2 separate regions of the Homo sapiens genome follow, and region 2 is linked to region 1. The links come from fine-mapping of genetic effects on gene expression. A gene starts in region 1. The other region holds a variant in brackets. All regions are shown on one strand. Distances are between the middles of the regions. Region 1 holds the start of SMG8 (SMG8 nonsense mediated mRNA decay factor). Region 2 overlaps PRR11 (proline rich 11).

The links. PIP is the estimated chance that this variant, and not a neighbour inherited with it, causes the effect. A credible set is the group of variants that fine-mapping cannot tell apart.
Region 2: its variant is the best candidate, but not a certain one, in a credible set for the expression of SMG8 in subcutaneous fat (FUSION, PIP 0.65).

Annotation. Positions count from the first base shown.
Region 1 is chr17:59,207,756-59,212,079 of GRCh38, reverse strand. SMG8 (SMG8 nonsense mediated mRNA decay factor) reads right to left here and starts at 2,045. Exons shown (of 4, transcript NM_018149.7): 1 at 270-2,045. The coding sequence starts at 2,028. RefSeq lists an enhancer at 2,167-2,236.
Region 2 is chr17:59,179,316-59,183,702 of GRCh38, reverse strand. All of the region lies in intron 2 of PRR11 (proline rich 11), which reads right to left. It also overlaps the pseudogene SPDYE22P. Among named protein-coding and RNA genes, the nearest start is that of PRR11, 26 kb to the right of the region's middle. RefSeq lists an enhancer at 824-1,325. The variant AC/C (reference allele first, on the strand shown) is at 1,676.

The sequences.
Region 1 (4,324 bases):
TTAATATGAGATGTCTGAAATTTTATACTACTTAATAATTCTCACTTACCAATTCACTAGGACGTATCCTTTAAATGAAAAAAAATAAGAAAGTAGTCATAGCTGATATTTTCCTTTTACAGCAGGAGAGAAAACGTATAGCTGATGCACCTAAATTTCTGTAGGGCTCTTTCTAAAATATCAATACATAGTGAACAGACTATCTTAAAACAAGAATGAAAACACAGCTCAAAGTTTTTATTTCAAAATGCTGAACAAATTTTAGCTACCTGATTTAGGTAATGAGTGAAATTTGTGCACACAGTGTTGATCAGTTAAACTCCTCTCCTCACAGAGCTGATGGCCATTGCTCCAAAATTTGTAGCAGTCCTCATGTAACTGCATGGCGTATTTGTGAAATGCTGGACCTCTAGCATGTTGACTGTACACTCGAAGAGCCTGGGCAAGCTGATTCTTATGGACAGTCATTGTGTAATTATGAGGCAAATTTGACTGGTAGGCACTGTGGGCCATGGGTAAAGCTTTTTGGCATCGGTTTTCTGAGAATTTTGTGTCAATATCCAAAAATCCTTCCAAGACTTTAATACTGCTTAAAATCTTAGATGTTAGCTCTCCAGTGGGTGACCCCAAGTCCTCTTCTTTCCCATCAATAGCCACCTCATACAGTTTTGAAGCTGCTGAGATCCACTTCTGATAAGTAGGAAGTTCAAAATGGGAAGGCTGTGGGTTCCTGCCCACACTGTCATCGAAACCTTTCTTGCTTAGAACTAGCTCCACATGCTGCCATAGGAATTCCCGAAGAGTGAAATCCACTAGCTGGCCTGAAGAACTGGAACTGCTGCTGTCAATGTGAAAGGAAAGTTGTTGTCGGCTGTGCTGCCTCATCACCTGGTATCGCCTAGGCCCAGAAAGGGGTGCAGGCACCAGCAAAGATTCCGGGTCCTTCACAGTACAATGACTCCTAAGTTGGTCCAGCAACATACCTACTGGGTCCTCCTCCTGGCTTCCCGGTACTATGTACACGAAAGCTTGGTTGGCAGGCACAGTAAAGAGGCAGTTGATGCTCTGATTAGTCAAGACACGACTCTTCCGGAAGATTCTATAGATCTGGTCCTCCAGGGCATGCTGCAGCCTCCTTTTGGGAGAATGTTTCTTGGGCTTGTCTGGATGAGCTGGGTCTTGGTTCCGAGGAGGTTCTACCTTGAGGGCTCCATTGAGTTGAAAGAGGAAAAGGAGTCTAGGTGGGCAAGGTCGGCAGTTTAGCTTCCAGTCTTTGCCAACTGGACAATCCTTAATGGCTGTTTTAAGGAGCGGCAGGACCTTCTGTCTCAGCCCATCCAGGGCTCTGAATACTCGATCATAAGTGATATCAAAGGAACAAGTGGGATGGACCAGAAGCAAGATATGACAGACAGAGAATAGGTAAAGGAGACTGAGGCACTGCAGCTTCTCTTGATGCTTCCAGAACTCGTGTGCTTCTGCATGAGGTAAAGAGAGTCCACCTCCAGCTTCCCCGCTCTGAAGAGCCCGACAAGCCCGGAGAAGCTGTGAATTGTCACAGATGGAGGTGAGGAGAAGATACAGAACTTTGCTTTCCTGACTGTAGTAGGCCTGCAGAAGGCTGTAGTCCTGGGAGCCTGCCTCAGTTCGGTTACCTTCCGCGACAGCTCCACTTCCCCGAACTGAACCCCCGGCTGCAGCCCCAGGGTCCTCGGCTCCACCGGCCTCACCCACGGCGCCAGCCTCAGTTCTGATTCCAGGTCCTGGATCCCCAGGATCTTGGTGGCGAAAGAGAGGAAAGACCTGTCGGTCGCACACCGTATTCACAAGAGAGAACTTCTCGGAATTCAGGCGTAGAGCCGTCTTGCCGAAGATTCCCACAACGCAGATCTCATCCTCCCGCCATGGAGGCTCCGGTCCGCCAGCCGCGCTCCCTCCGCCCTCAGTAGGGGACCCTCCGGGACTTTCAGAGCCCATCCAGGCTGATGCTCCCATTAGAAGGTCTCGCAAGCTCACGGGACCAGCCATAGTGCAGAGCGTTCTCTAGAGTCCTTCCGGTCCGTTAGTAAAACCGACCGGCTTTCGTCCAATTTTGAAATCCTTCCTCCGCTTCTTCAGTTCCTGCTTTCCCGTCACTTGAGTTCCGCCTCCTCTTCTCCTCTCCTAGTTTGTTTCCTCAACTGTAGGAATTGAGATATCAAAAACAAAAAACAAAAAAACAAAACAAAACTGGGACTACTGCGGTGGCTCACGCCTGTAATCCTAGCACTTTGGGAGGCCAAGGCGGGCGGATCACCTGAAGTCAGGAGTTCGAGACCAGGCTGGCCAACATGGTGAAACCCCATCTCTACTAAAAATACGAAAATTAGCCGGGCGTGGTGGCGGGCGCCTGTAATCCCAGCTACTCGGGAGGCTGAGGCAGGACAATCGCTTGAACCCGGGAGGCGGAAGTTGCAGTGAACCGAGATCACACCATTGCACTCCAGCCTGGGCAACAAGAGCGAAAACCGTCTAAAAAAAAAAAAAAAAAAAAAAAAAAAAGCAAAAATTAGGCGTGGTGGCGCATACCTGTAGTTCCAGCTGCTCAGGAGGCTGAGGCAGGAGAATTGCTCGAACCAGGAGGTGGAGGTTGCAGTGAGCCGAGATCACCCCGCTGCACTCCAGCCTGGGCGACAGAGTGAGACTCCGTCTCAAAAAAAAAAAAAATTGCGAAATATCTTTGTATGTAAATTATAACTTGCAGAACCTCTCTAACTAGAAGGCATATTGACAAATAGCTGCCAGGATAAAACTTACAACCAGATTTAAATGTATAATTATAACGTTTATTATTCTGGGGTTTTGTAAAAAATAAAAATCTTTGAATCTAAAAAAATTATCTATAGCACTATACAATAACATGACTGAATCTTTAAAATAAATGTTGATTGAAAGAAATCAGAAACAAAAGTGTATATACCCTATAATTCTATTTTTTTTTTTTTTTTTTTTTTTTTTTGGAGATGCAGTCTTGCTCTGTGGCCAGGCTAGAGTTCAGTGGCGCGATCTCGACTCACTGCAACCTCCGGCTCCCCGGTGCAAGTGATTCTCTTGCCTCAGCCTCCCAAGTAGCTGGGATTACAGGTGCGTGAGACCACACCCAGCTAACTTTTGTATTTTTAATAGAGACAGGATTTCACCATGTTGGCCAGGATAGTCTCAATCTCCTGATCTCATGATCTGCCCGCCTCGGCCTCCCAAAGTGGTGGGATTACAGGCGAGAGCCACTGCGCCAGGCCTGATTTTATTTCTATAGAGTTCAAAAGCAAGCAAAATAAACCATTGCATTTAGGGGTGTGTTCTTACTAAAAGCAAGGAAATATTTATTGTACCAAGTAGGTCAGTGATTACTTAGTGAGGGAAGGGATTATGATATAATATATATATTATATATATACATAATAATATATATTACACATATACATAATAATATATATTATATATATACATAATAATATATATTATATATATTTTGAGACAGAGTCTTGCTCTGTTGCCCAGAGTGGAGTACAGTGGTGCAATCTAAGCTCACTGCAAACTCCACCTCCCAGGTTCAAGTGATTCTACTGCCTCAGCCTCCCAAGGAGCTGGGATTACAGGTGCACCACCATGGGCGGCTAATTTTTGTATTTTTAGTAGAGATGGTGTTTCACCATGTTGGCCAGGCTGGTCTCGAACTCCCGACCTCACATCATCCACCCACCTCGGCCTCCCAAAGTGCTGGGATTACAGGTGTCAGCCACCACACCTCGCCTCCGGCCTAAAATTTTTTTTTTTTTTTTTTGTGAGACAGAGTCTCACTCTGTCACCCAGGCTGAAGTGCAGTGGTGCTATCTGGGATCACGGCAACCTCCATCTCCTATTCCCTGTCTCCGTCTCCTCAAGCAATTCTTCTGCCTCAGCCTCCCAAGTAGCTGGGATTACAAGCACGTACCACCACGCCCACCTAAACTTGTATTTTTAGTAGAGATGGGGTTTCCCCACGTTAGCCAGGCTGGTCTCGAACTTCCAACCCCAGGTGATCTGCCCACCCCGGCCTCCCAAAGTGCTGGGATTATAGGTTTGAGCCATCACGCTCGGCATTGATTTTTTAATTCATATATTTTCTATACTTACTATATACTTTTTTGTTTTTTTGAGACAGAGTCTCACTCTGTTGCCCAGGCTGGAGTGCAGTGGCGTGATCTCAGCTCCCTGCAAGCTCTGCCTCCCGGGTTCATGCCATTCTCCTGCCTCAGCCTCCCAAGTAGCTGGGACTACAGGCGCCTGCCACCACGCCCGGCTA
Region 2 (4,387 bases), 28 kb after region 1:
AGACTAGAGTTTCTTAGCCGAACTGGAGGGGCTGGCCTTAGGTAATCCATGGACTCCCTGAAACTGGGGACACCATTGGAAATATGAGTGAGCTCATGGGCAGTTTCCTATGATTTTCAGGCCTCAAAATGTCTCTTGGACTCAAAGATGCCTTACGGCAGAGGACACGTGTACCCCCAGTATAGAATCTCGGACAGTGAATGTCAGTAAACATTCGGCAGAAAAGCTCTGCCAAATTGAGTGCTCTGATGTGACTTTTTCATCAAGTCAATGTTCCTGGGATCTCTTGTATATGATAATCTCACACTTGTAAGGTTTCATAGTTTCTGCTTACCCTAGTTTTCTTTCCCACCCTCCCTCTCCCACCAGACTGGACTCTGAAATGGGCATGTACAGAGAAGAGGAGACCCCAAAATGCTTCAGGCTTTGAGTGGAGAAGACACAGCCTCTGCTGGGACAGGGAACAGATGGATGCGGAGACCCTGAAGATGCTTTTGGATGGTGGTCTGAGGTTGGGACAGTGGCAGGAGATACCATTCACCCAGGATCTCCAGGACAAGAGACCAGCCTGGCAGTTACATGTGTTTTTCTTCAAACTGGTTGCCAGGTTGGAATGACCAATGACATCAGAGATTCCAACCTTCCTGATTGGAAGGACTGGACTCCATGGGCATCTGGGAGCTCAAGTGGACAACTGCATCTTCTCAGAGCTGTTCTCCACTCCTGACTTCTCTCAGCCTCGAGAATTGATAACACACCTTCTGGGTCCTAGCAGAGTCCAGAAGAAGGCCTTGGATAGAACAGAGACTAGGTTCCGTGGGTTGGGATAGATTTTGGGAAAGATCATGACCAGCCATCAACCGCACCCCCAGGATGAGGAGCAGAGCCCCCAGCTGAGCACCTCAGGGTACCCCCTCCAGGAGGTGGTGGATGATGAAGTGTCGGGACCATCAGGTGAGGGGACTGGAGGAAGAAGAGGTGGGATAGGATTGACTAAGGTGAAGGAAGGGGGCCAGGTGCAGTGGCTCACACCTGTAACCCTAACACTTTGGGAGGCCGAGGCGGATGGATCACCTGAGGTCAGGAGTTCAAGACGAGCCTGGCCAACATGGTGAAACCCCATCTCTACTAAAAGTACAAAAATTAGCCAGGTGGTAGTGGTGCGCGCCTGTAATCCCAGCTATTTGGGAGGCTGAGACAGGAGAATCACTTGAGCCTGGGAGGAAGAGGTTGCAGTGAGCCAAGATTGTGCTACCGCACTCCAGTCTGGGTGAGAGAGTGAGACACTGTCTCAAAAAAAAAAAAAAAAAAAAGAAGGGTCAGAGGTCAGGAAGGAGAACCTGAGGAGGGTGTATGGGAAGAATGGAGAAATTCAGGCCAGGTGCAGTGGCTCACACCTGTAATCCCAGCACTTTGGGAGGCCAAGGCGGGCAGATCACTTGAGGCCAGGAGTTTGAGACCAGCCTGGTCAACATGGTGAAACCCCATCTCTACTAAAAGTACAAAATTGAGCTGGGCATTATGGCAGATACCTGTAATCCCAGCTACCTGAGAGGCTGAGGCATGAGAATAACTGGAATCCGGGAGACAGATGTTGCAGTGAACTGAGATTGCACCACTACACTCCAGCCCGGGCGACAAAGCAAGATTCTGTCTCGAAACAAAAAAAAAAAAA[AC/C]CAATAACAAAAAAACAAGCAAAAAAGGAGGGACTCAGAGAGCCAGGGACCAGGGAAGGACATGAAGAAGTGTTCTGAGGACAGAGATACGGAAGAATGGGGAGGGGAAGGAGCGGCTCATGGGGTTGAGCAGAGGAGAAAGCCAGAAAGATGGCTTGGAGAAGCCAACAGTCTGCAAGGCTGGGGAGGATGGAGAGTGGTTTGGGGTTGGGGTCGGGGTCGGGGTCTAAGGTGATCAGTTGCAGAAGCATTACATGGTGGCCTGGTTTCTTTACTCAGCCCCTGGGGTAGATCCCAGCCTCCCATGTAGGTCCCTTTGCTGGAAAAGGAAGAGGGAGTGGTCGGACCAATCTGAGGAGTCATCGGAGGAGGCGCCAGAGAAGGAGCTCGCCCCTGAGCCTGAGGAGACCTGGGTGGCGGAGATGCTGTGTGGGCTCAAAATGAAGCTGAAGCTGAAGCAACGGCTAGTGTCATTCGTGCTCCCTGAGCACCATGAGGACTTCAACAGGCTGCTTGGTAGGAGGACACCCCAGAGAGCACCTCCAATCCTGTTCTTTTAAAAACGAGGAAAACTTTCAATAACCACACTTTTCCAATGGGAAAAATATGCCCCCAGTGGGTGAGCTCTCCATGCGGGAGGACTCAGAAGTGATCACTCATGAGGGACGCTTAGGAGATGATAGAGGATTAGGCTGGAGTTGATAAAGTTTGGCTCTCGGGATAAGAAAGCTTGGTTTTGGGCTGGGCGCTGTGGCTCACGTCTGTAATCCCAGCACTTTCGGAGGCCGAGGCGGGCGGATTACGAGGTCAGGAGATCGAGACCATCCTGGCTAACATGGTGAAACACAGTCTTTCTAAAAATATAAAAAATTAGCTGGGCGTGGTGGTGGGCGCCTGTAGTCCTAGCTACTTGGGAGGCTGAGGCAGCAGAATGGCGTGAACCCCGGAGGTGTTGCTTGCAGTGAGCTGAGATCGCGCCACTACACTCCAGCCTGGGTGACAGAGAGAGACTCTGTCTCAAAAAAACAAAAAAACAACAAAAAAAGAAAGTTTGGTTTCGGGACAGGTGCTGTGGCTGATGCCTGAGATCCCAGCACACTGGGAGGCTGAGGCAAGAGAATTGCTTGAACTCAGGACTTTGAGGCTGCAGTGAGCTATGACTGCACGACTGCACTCCAGCCTGCATGACAGAACAAAACCCTGTTTCAAAAGAAAACCAAAGGCCGGGCGCAGTAGCTCATGTCTGTAATCCCAGCACTTTGGGAGGCTGAGGCGGGTGGATCACCTGAGGTCAGTTGTTCGAGACCAGCCTGACCAATATAGTGAAACCTAGTCAATACTAAAAATACAAAACTTAGCCGGGTGTGGTGGCGCACGCCTGTATTCCCAGCTACTTGGGAGGCTGAGACAGGAGAATCTCTAGAACCCGGGAGGCAGAGGTTGCTTTGAGCCGAGATAGCACCACTGCACTCCAGTCTGAGAGACTGAGACCCTGTGGCAAAAAAAACAAAAAAAACAAAAAAAAAAAAACAAGGACGGGCCCAGAAGTCAGGAAGGAGCACCTGAGGAGGTGTGTGGGAAGAATGGAGGGACTGAGGCAGGGTGCAGTGGCTCACACCTGTAATCCCAGCACTTCGGGAGGCCAAGGCAGGCGGATCACTTGAGGCCAGGAGTTTGAGACCAGCCTGGCCAACATGGTGAAACCCCATCCCTACTAAAAGAACAAAAATGAGCTGGGCGTTATTACGGGCACCTGTAATCCCAGCTACTTGGGAGGCTGAGGCAGGAGAATCACTGGAACCTGGGAGACGGAGATTGCAGTGAGCCGAGATTGCACTACTACACTCCAGCCTGGGCGACAAAGCAAGACTCTGTGTCAAAAAAAAAAAAAAAAAAAAAGGAGAGACTCAGAGAACTAGGGATGAGGGAAGGAAATGAGGAAGTGTTCTGAGGACAGAGAGATGGAAGAATGGGGAGGGGAAGGAGCGGCTCATGGGGTTCAGCAAAGGAGAAAGACGGAAAGATGGCTTGGAGAAGCCAGCAGTCTGCGAGGCTGGGGAGGATGGAGAGTGGTTTGGCGTTTTGGGTCTGGCTCTAAGGAGTTCAATTGCAGAAGCATTATACAGTGGCCTGGTTTCTTTACTCAGCCCCTGGGGTAGATCCCAGCCCCCTGTGTGGGTCCCTTTGCTGGAAAAGGAAGAGGGAGTGGTCGGACGAATCTGAGGAGTCATCGGAGGAGGAGCCAGAGAAGGAGCTCGCCCCTGAGCCTGAGGAGACCTGGGTGGCGGAGACGCTGTGTGGGCTCAAGATGAAGCTGAAGCAATGGCGAGTGTCACCCGTGCTCCCTGAGCACCACGAGACTTTCAACAGGCTGCTTGGTAGGAGGACACCCCAGAGAGCACCTCCAATCCTGTTCTTTTAAAAAAGAGGAAACTTCCAATAACCACACTTTTCCAATGGGAAAAATATGCCCCCAGTGGGTGAGCTCTCCATGCGGGAGGACTCAGAAGTGATCACTCATGAGGGACACTTAGGAGATGATAGAAGATTAGGATTAGGTTGGCAATTGGGATAAGAAAGCTTGGTTTTGGGCCAAGTGCGGTGGCTCACGTCTGAGATCCCAGCATGTTGGCAGGCTGAGTTAAGAGGATTGCTTGAACTCAGGACTTTGAGGCTGCAGTGAGCTATGATGGCACCACTGCACTCCAGCC